Homo sapiens: one gene and its partner. The gene in region 1 interacts genetically with each later gene. Each region holds a gene or a part of one and is shown in the gene's direction. Other genes may lie near its edges.

The links.
Region 2: changes in NPR1 (region 1) and HCRTR1 together harm fitness more than expected from each alone (negative genetic interaction), as found in Homo sapiens cells (one large-scale study listed by BioGRID).

The regions. Positions count from the first base shown.
Region 1 is NC_000001.11:153,691,281-153,694,492, forward strand, and holds the end of NPR1 (atrial natriuretic peptide receptor 1 precursor), read left to right. Parts: intron 1-1,825; coding exon 1,826-1,917; intron 1,918-2,071; coding exon 2,072-2,134; 3' UTR 2,135-2,712; downstream 2,713-3,212. UniProt on the Homo sapiens protein: Receptor for the atrial natriuretic peptide NPPA/ANP and the brain natriuretic peptide NPPB/BNP which are potent vasoactive hormones playing a key role in cardiovascular homeostasis.
Region 2 is NC_000001.11:31,616,273-31,620,736, forward strand, and holds the start of HCRTR1 (orexin/Hypocretin receptor type 1), read left to right. Parts: upstream 1-1,416; 5' UTR 1,417-1,609; intron 1,610-1,752; exon of another isoform or gene 1,753-1,854; intron 1,855-2,196; exon of another isoform or gene 2,197-2,483; 5' UTR 2,484-2,544; exon of another isoform or gene 2,545-2,778; 5' UTR 2,779-2,920; coding exon 2,921-3,119; intron 3,120-3,259; coding exon 3,260-3,438; intron 3,439-4,464. UniProt on the Homo sapiens protein: Moderately selective excitatory receptor for orexin-A and, with a lower affinity, for orexin-B neuropeptide. Triggers an increase in cytoplasmic Ca(2+) levels in response to orexin-A binding.

The DNA.
Region 1 (3,212 bases):
TCTTACTCCTACCCGCCCCTTGCTCTTGCCTCCTGTTTATCTTCTATCCTTCTGCTGTATTCGACACAATTCAATGCAGTAAACATTTATTGAGTGACTACTGAGTGCCAGGCCCTGGGATAGTAACATGGCCCAGATCCAGAGTTAGCTGAGAAATTCATGTGGACCCCATCTAAACCTTATGGTGAAAGAAAGGCTGCTTGGGAGCCAGTCCTGGGAGCCCAGAGGGATCTAGTTCGGCAAATATTCCCTGGGCACTATTTTGGGGGCTGTCAGAGTACAGCCCCTTGTTGAGGGTCCAGTCCTCAAGGAGCACATTCCCAGAAATTGTTCAACATTCTGGGCGCTGGGGGTGCTTGTAATCCCAGCACTTTGGGAGGCCGAGGTGGGCAGATCACTTGAGGCCAGGAGTTGGAGACTAGCCTGGCCAACATGGTGAACCTCCTGTCTCTACTAAAAATACAAAAAATTAGCTGGGCGTGGTGGCACGTGCCCGTAATCCCAGCTACTCAGGAGGCTGAGACATGAAAATCACTTGAACCCAGGAGGTGGATGTTGCAGTGAGCCGAGACTGCACCCCTGGGCAACAGAGCGAGACTCTGTCTCAAAAAAAAAAAAGAGAGAAAGAAAGAAAAGAAAAGAAAGAAACTGTTAAACACAACAAGGCCACTGTGATTGATGCAAACCCCAGAAGTAGGGACATGAGTTCAGACAGTGGTCAAAGAGAGGGTGTGGCAATATTGGGCCCCACTCCATCACTGACCTCCTCAGCCACTTGGGCAGATCACCCTGGGCCTCAGTTCCTCGGCCACAAAATGAGGGTATAGCATGAAATCATGAAAGCAACAATTTACATAGTGCTTCCTAGGTAGCACATTCCGTTTGAATACTTTATGGATGTTAAATTTAATCCTCACAACAAGGTTTTGAGATGGGTACTGACACTATCAGCATTTTACAGATTAGGAAAATGAAGCAGAGAGAATTTATTTTACATACCTAAGCAAGTATCCAAGCTGAGGTTCATACTGAGGCAGTGCAGGATCCAAAGTGCCAGCTCCTAACCACCATGCTGTGTAGAGCCGGGTGACACTCCAGAGAGTGCTGTCCAACAGGATGTTCCATAGTCATGAAAATGTTCTGTATTCTGTGCTGTCCAATACAGTAGCCTCTAGGCACATATGGCTACTTATCACTGGAAATGTGACGGGTGCAACTGAGGCCCTGATTTTTTTTTTTTTTTTTGGAGACAGAGTTTCGCTCTGTCGCCCAGCCTGGATGGAGTGCAGTGGTGCAATCTCGGCTCACTGCAACCTCCGCCTCCCAGGTTCAAGCGATTCTCCTGCCTCAGCCTCCCAAGTAGCTGGAATTACAGGTGAGTGCCACCACACACAGCTAATTTTTGTATTTTTAGTAGAGACGGGGTTTCGCCATATTGGCCAGGATGGTCTCGAACTCCTGGCCTCAAGTGATCCTCCTGCCTCAGCCTCCCAAAGTGCTGGGATTACAGGTGTGAGCCACAGCACCCAGCCTGAATTTTTAACTGTATTTAGTTTAAATTAATTTAAGTTGAAACAGGCACATGTGATTAGTGGCTACTGTATTGGATTACACAGCTCCAGAGTTCTAAATGAGAGGCTAATGTGGTCACGCACTACATTCAGGGGGTGGGGCCCCTCTGAGCTAGAGGGCTTCCTGGCCCAAAAGAGGGAGAGAGGGTACCTGTCCACCTGTCCACCCCCACAGTCCCTGGTCTCTTTTGCCTCTACTTTCCTGCTCTCCTCTCTCACATTGCTCACCTTCCCTTCTCCCCTGTCCTACCCAGCCCTGAAGATCCACTTGTCTTCTGAGACCAAGGCTGTCCTGGAGGAGTTTGGTGGTTTCGAGCTGGAGCTTCGAGGGGATGTAGAAATGAAGGTAGAGGGAGAAGCCTCTGCCCTCCCCACCTTTTGGGGTCCTAGAGGGAGTTACCCTTCTCAAGCAGCCAATGCCACTCCCATCCCTAAGGCTCTCATCTGACTGGGGAAAGGGCATGTGCCACTCCCCAGCCCATCCTCTTTTTTCCCTCCAGGGCAAAGGCAAGGTTCGGACCTACTGGCTCCTTGGGGAGAGGGGGAGTAGCACCCGAGGCTGACCTGCCTCCTCTCCTATCCCTCCACACCTCCCTACCCTGTGCCAGAAGCAACAGAGGTGCCAGGCCTCAGCCTCACCCACAGCAGCCCCATCGCCAAAGGATGGAAGTAATTTGAATAGCTCAGGTGTGCTGACCCCAGTGAAGACACCAGATAGGACCTCTGAGAGGGGACTGGCATGGGGGGATCTCAGAGCTTACAGGCTGAGCCAAGCCCACGGCCATGCACAGGGACACTCACACAGGCACACGCACCTGCTCTCCACCTGGACTCAGGCCGGGCTGGGCTGTGGATTCCTGATCCCCTCCCCTCCCCATGCTCTCCTCCCTCAGCCTTGCTACCCTGTGACTTACTGGGAGGAGAAAGAGTCACCTGAAGGGGAACATGAAAAGAGACTAGGTGAAGAGAGGGCAGGGGAGCCCACATCTGGGGCTGGCCCACAATACCTGCTCCCCCGACCCCCTCCACCCAGCAGTAGACACAGTGCACAGGGGAGAAGAGGGGTGGCGCAGAAGGGTTGGGGGCCTGTATGCCTTGCTTCTACCATGAGCAGAGACAATTAAAATCTTTATTCCAGTGACAGTGTCTCTTCTTGAGGGAGAGAGGGTTGCCAGAAAACAGTCAGTTCTCCACTCTCTACTTCAAATAAGACTCACTTCTTGTTCTACAAGGGTCTAGAAGGAAAAGTAAAAAAAAAAGACTCTCGATTCTTAAGCTGGGAATGCAGGCTCTGAGAGTAGTAACAGCCTATGAATTGCCCAGCAGTGCTGAAACTGGTTTAAGGACCCATTTACATCCTTAAGAATTATTATTATTGGCCGGGCACAGGGGCTCATGCCTGTAATCCCAGCACTTTGGGAGGCTGAGGTGGATGGATCACCTGAGGTCAAGAGTTCAAAACCAGCCTGGCCAACATGGTGAAACCCAGTCTCTACTAAAAATACAAAAATTAGCTGGGTATGGTGGCACGCGCCTGTAATCCCAGCTACTCAGGAGACTGAGGCAGGAGAATCTCTTTTTTTTTTTTTTTTTTTGAGACGGAGTCTCGCTCCTTCGCCCAGGCTGGAGTGCAGTGGTGCC
Region 2 (4,464 bases), about 120 Mb from region 1:
CCATCCTCCTGTTCTGCAGAGGTTAAGGTCACTGGCCCCCTCCCTTATGCTGCTCCAGTTCCTCTCCCACACCTCCTATGCCTAACGGCGCATCTTCAGAGCCTTTGAAAAGGGCTTTGGCTGCAATGGGAAAGATGGTGGTTGCATCCCAGGAGTCACCTCCCAGGAGGGAAACAGTGTGAGTTTCAGAGGGTGACATGTTAGGAATGTCCTATGCTGAGCTAGGGGATGGCCAAGGTGACTGCATGATGCTCAGGCAGTCACCCTTCACCTACCTGTGATTTCCAGAATCCCCAACCTTCAAACCTTTGCACCTGCTGTTTCCTGACCTTGAATGCCTCTCCTCGAATACCACAATCCCCCTTGCAGGCTACCTTCTTATTCTTCAGGTCTCCATGGAGATGTCCCTGCTCCAGGAAGCCTGTTCTCATGCCCTGGCTGAGTCGGTCTGTCCTCCTGTGCCCCACAGCCCCCAGGGCCCTCACACCCTCCTCACACCACAGGTTAATTGCCTGGGTGTGCACCTGCCTCCCCCACCAGCCAGAGAGATTTTGCAGGGGAGGGAGACTGTGTCTGGTGAGAGAGGCTAGAGGCCTGAGAGGGGCAGAGGCTCAAAGCCCAGCTCTGCCTCTGCTGTGCGACCTTGGGCAAGTCATTGCGCCATGTGGATCCAGTGTCCTTATCTGTAAAATGGGGACAATAACGACCACCTCACCAGGTTGATATGAAGATTAAATGAGAGCAGGCATCATATGCATTATCCAAACGGTAGCTGTATTATTAGAACTCACTGCCTAGCACACAGCTTAATAAATCGTTATTTGTGGAATTAACGAACCCCCACTTCTGTCCCCACCGGCGTCCTTGATTTTTGGGGGGAACAGTAGGTATAACAAAAAGAGAAACTGGGGGCAGATAGGATGGGGGGCTGGGAGATGGGAGAACAGGCTTCTCTGGCATCGTTGGGAGCTAGCTGTTACAGCAGCATCCGGAGCTAGGCTGGAGGCGGTGCAGGCATCCTCTCTGTCTCACCCCTGTGACCCACCTGTGCCATCCTCCTCCTCAGTTAGGTGAGGCAGCAAGGAGAGGCGGGGCTGGGCTCCACCTCTGCACTGTGGCCCTCTGAAGCTGCCAGGCCCGCCGGCACACACTAAGTGCGCCCAGAATGCGGGGTGGCCAGGGGCATAAATGTTGAATGAATGAGGATGGAATGAATGAACGGATGGACGCATGAATGGAGGTGGGATGGAAGCTTGAAGTGGGAGGCTAGAAGGAACGAGCGTCTCCCTCCGCCCTGCGGGTCTCGGGGCTGGAAGACAGGGAGCCAAGACCGTCTGGGGGCTCCCACCCCGCCCTGCCCCTCCCGCCGGCCCTCCCTCCCCGCAGCGCGCAGCCCGGCGGAGCCCGCGCCGAGCCACAGCCCGCGCAGTTGCCGCGGATCGTGCTGAGCCCCGCGAGCCGAGGCAGCGCAGCCTAGGGAGGGGGCTGCCCCGGCCCCCTCCTGCAGTCCCGGCCCCTAGAGGCTCGGCCTTCCTCGCAGGAAGGCGAAGTCCCCGGTGCCAGGTCCGGGGACCAGCAGCCGAGAACGCCCGGGTCCCGGAGCCAACAGGTGCGGGGTGTGGGGGACCCCCAGGCCTGGGATGGGGGTTCCAAAGGACCCGCGGCGAGGGATGGGAGGAGCCAAGAGTCTCGGGGGGTAACCTGGGTGCTGGGAGACTGGCTCCTCGGCCAGCGCTGCTCTCCTCTAGGCAGGCTCCGAGTGCCCTCGCTCCCCCGCGCCTTCCCGGAGCCCCGCCAGCCCCCGAGGTGCAGGAAGGTCCCGCGGACGGAGCGGGCCTGCCGGCGTTCAGTGGGGTATGAAGGCGTCCCCTCCCCTTCCCCAGGGGTCTCCAGGGATCCGCAACCCTCCGGCACCTGGCCGGGGTCGTCCTAGCCCAGCCGGGGGAAGGAGGGGCTGAGTGCGGGAGGAGGGGAGGGGCGGGGAGCTGGGCTGGCTGGATTTATGAATGGAGAGCGACCCGCGCGCCGGAACAGCGGCTCCTGGCGGCCGTCGGGGAGCGTCGCGGCCCTGGGGACCCAAAGGGGCCTCTTAGGGGGCCTGGATGCTCCCCTTGCTCGCAAGGGGTCGTCAGTCCCTCCGCGCACCACCCCCACTGTGTGTGTGTTGTATGTGTGCGTGTCCGCGAGTGCCCACCGGAGGGTCTGGCAGGTATGGCGGGTGGGGCTTGGGTCTCTAACACCTCCCTTGGCCCGTTTTCCCAACCCAAAGTTAAAGCCTCTGAACTGGCTCAAGAAATATTTGCAATCGGGATGGCTTCTCCTCCCAAATCTACGGTGTTTGGTGGGTTCGAACAGACCTGGCTTAAGAGCTTTGTGACCTTGAGCAAGAGACTCAATCTCTCTGAGCTTCGGTCTCATCTGCAAAGCAGGGTACCCTAATAATGGTAACCGGAAACGTCCCCGAAACTACCTTCTCGTACCAGGTTCTTGGTGAAGCACTTGGCACGCATCGGAGCTCATTACTCCTCATCGTGGTCCTGTAAGGTATGTAGGGCTGTCACCCCATTAGACAGATGGGGAAACCAAGGCTGAAAGAGGCCAGGTAAGCTACCCAAGGCAACTGGTGTGGAATTGGGATGCAACCCAGGTCTGTCTTCCTCCACCAATTTCATGACTGTGAGAATTAAGAGGGAACTTATACGCAAAGCGCCTGGCACAATCCCTAATGTTTCCTTCCTTCTCTCTTTTCCCACTCCCTCCTTTCCTTCCTCCCTTCAGGAAGTTTGAGGCTGAGACCCGAAAAGACCTGGGTGCAAGCCTCCAGGCACCCTGAAGGGAGTGGGCTGAGGGCTGGCCCAAGCTCCCTCCTCTCCCTCTGTAGAGCCTAGGATGCCCCTCTGCTGCAGCGGCTCCTGAGCTCATGGAGCCCTCAGCCACCCCAGGGGCCCAGATGGGGGTCCCCCCTGGCAGCAGAGAGCCGTCCCCTGTGCCTCCAGACTATGAAGATGAGTTTCTCCGCTATCTGTGGCGCGATTATCTGTACCCAAAACAGTATGAGTGGGTCCTCATCGCAGCCTATGTGGCTGTGTTCGTCGTGGCCCTGGTGGGCAACACGCTGGGTAGGTCCAGGGCTTGCCCGGCAGTGCTGCCGGCTTTCCCTGGGGATTGAAGGGGGTTGTGTGGGAGGAGGGCTCGCTGATTAGGCAGAACTAGGATGGGTGTGGCTCTGCCACCAGCTTCACCTCGCTGCACCCTGCAGTCTGCCTGGCCGTGTGGCGGAACCACCACATGAGGACAGTCACCAACTACTTCATTGTCAACCTGTCCCTGGCTGACGTTCTGGTGACTGCTATCTGCCTGCCGGCCAGCCTGCTGGTGGACATCACTGAGTCCTGGCTGTTCGGCCATGCCCTCTGCAAGGTCATCCCCTATCTACAGGTGAGCTCTGCCCAGGCACCCCTCACCACTCCTTGTCACGCCTGTAAAAAACCCACGGCCTTGCATAGGTCTCAGTGACCCCCAGACTTGCCTTTCAGACAGGTCAGTGGCTCATGACCCCTGAAGTGTCATCCTCTGCTGCTAGCAAGGGCAAGCCACCAGATCAGACACTCGAGGACACAGACACAACCCCACACACTCACAGAGATCCCCTCCTGGTCACAGCCACAGACATATACATAGACACGTGTGGACATGTATAGTCACCTCCAGGTACACAGGCACACAGTCAAGGAGAGAGGCAACAGCCCACAGTGACACATACACGACACCCTAGGCCTGCTCCCCAATCCCAAAGGGGCAGACGTGAGGGGCCTGATGGAAACAGCCGTCTCCTCTCCCTCCTGCACTGGCCAGGAAAGACCCCAGTGGTGGAAACCAGGATGTCCGGATGGGGTTAGTGGGGTGGAAGGAAGGCTTCTCTCAGTTTGTATCCTGTGATCCACTTCCTGCACCCCAGAGGGCAGGGGGCACCCCTAGAGGCAATGCCCACACACCTCTGACCCAGACTCATCTCTGCCTCCCAGAATGAGGGCTTTTTCCTAACAGCCTGGGGAAGGGATGGCATTCCATGGCAGAGATAAATGCCTCTTGGATTTCCCACTATTTTGAGGCTCCCCACTCAACTGGTTAACTCTGGTGACCCTGAGCATAAAGACAGATGGATGAGGGAATTCTGTGCCTCAGTTTCCTCATCTGTAACAGGGGGGCAAGAGCGCTTTGTGGGATTGTCATGAGGATGATGAGAACAGTGCCCAGCACATAGTAAGTTACGTAGGTGCAAGTTATTATTCACCGGAGGGGTGCACCTACCATGTGCCAGGTCTAAAGCTGGACATTGTTTGTACATGATTTCACTTATTCGCACAAGAATCTTGCCAGGTAGATGGTATATTCCCATTCTGTAGACGAGGCTCAGAGAGGGTGAGTGACTTGCCCACATTTACACAGCCAGTAAGTGGTGGA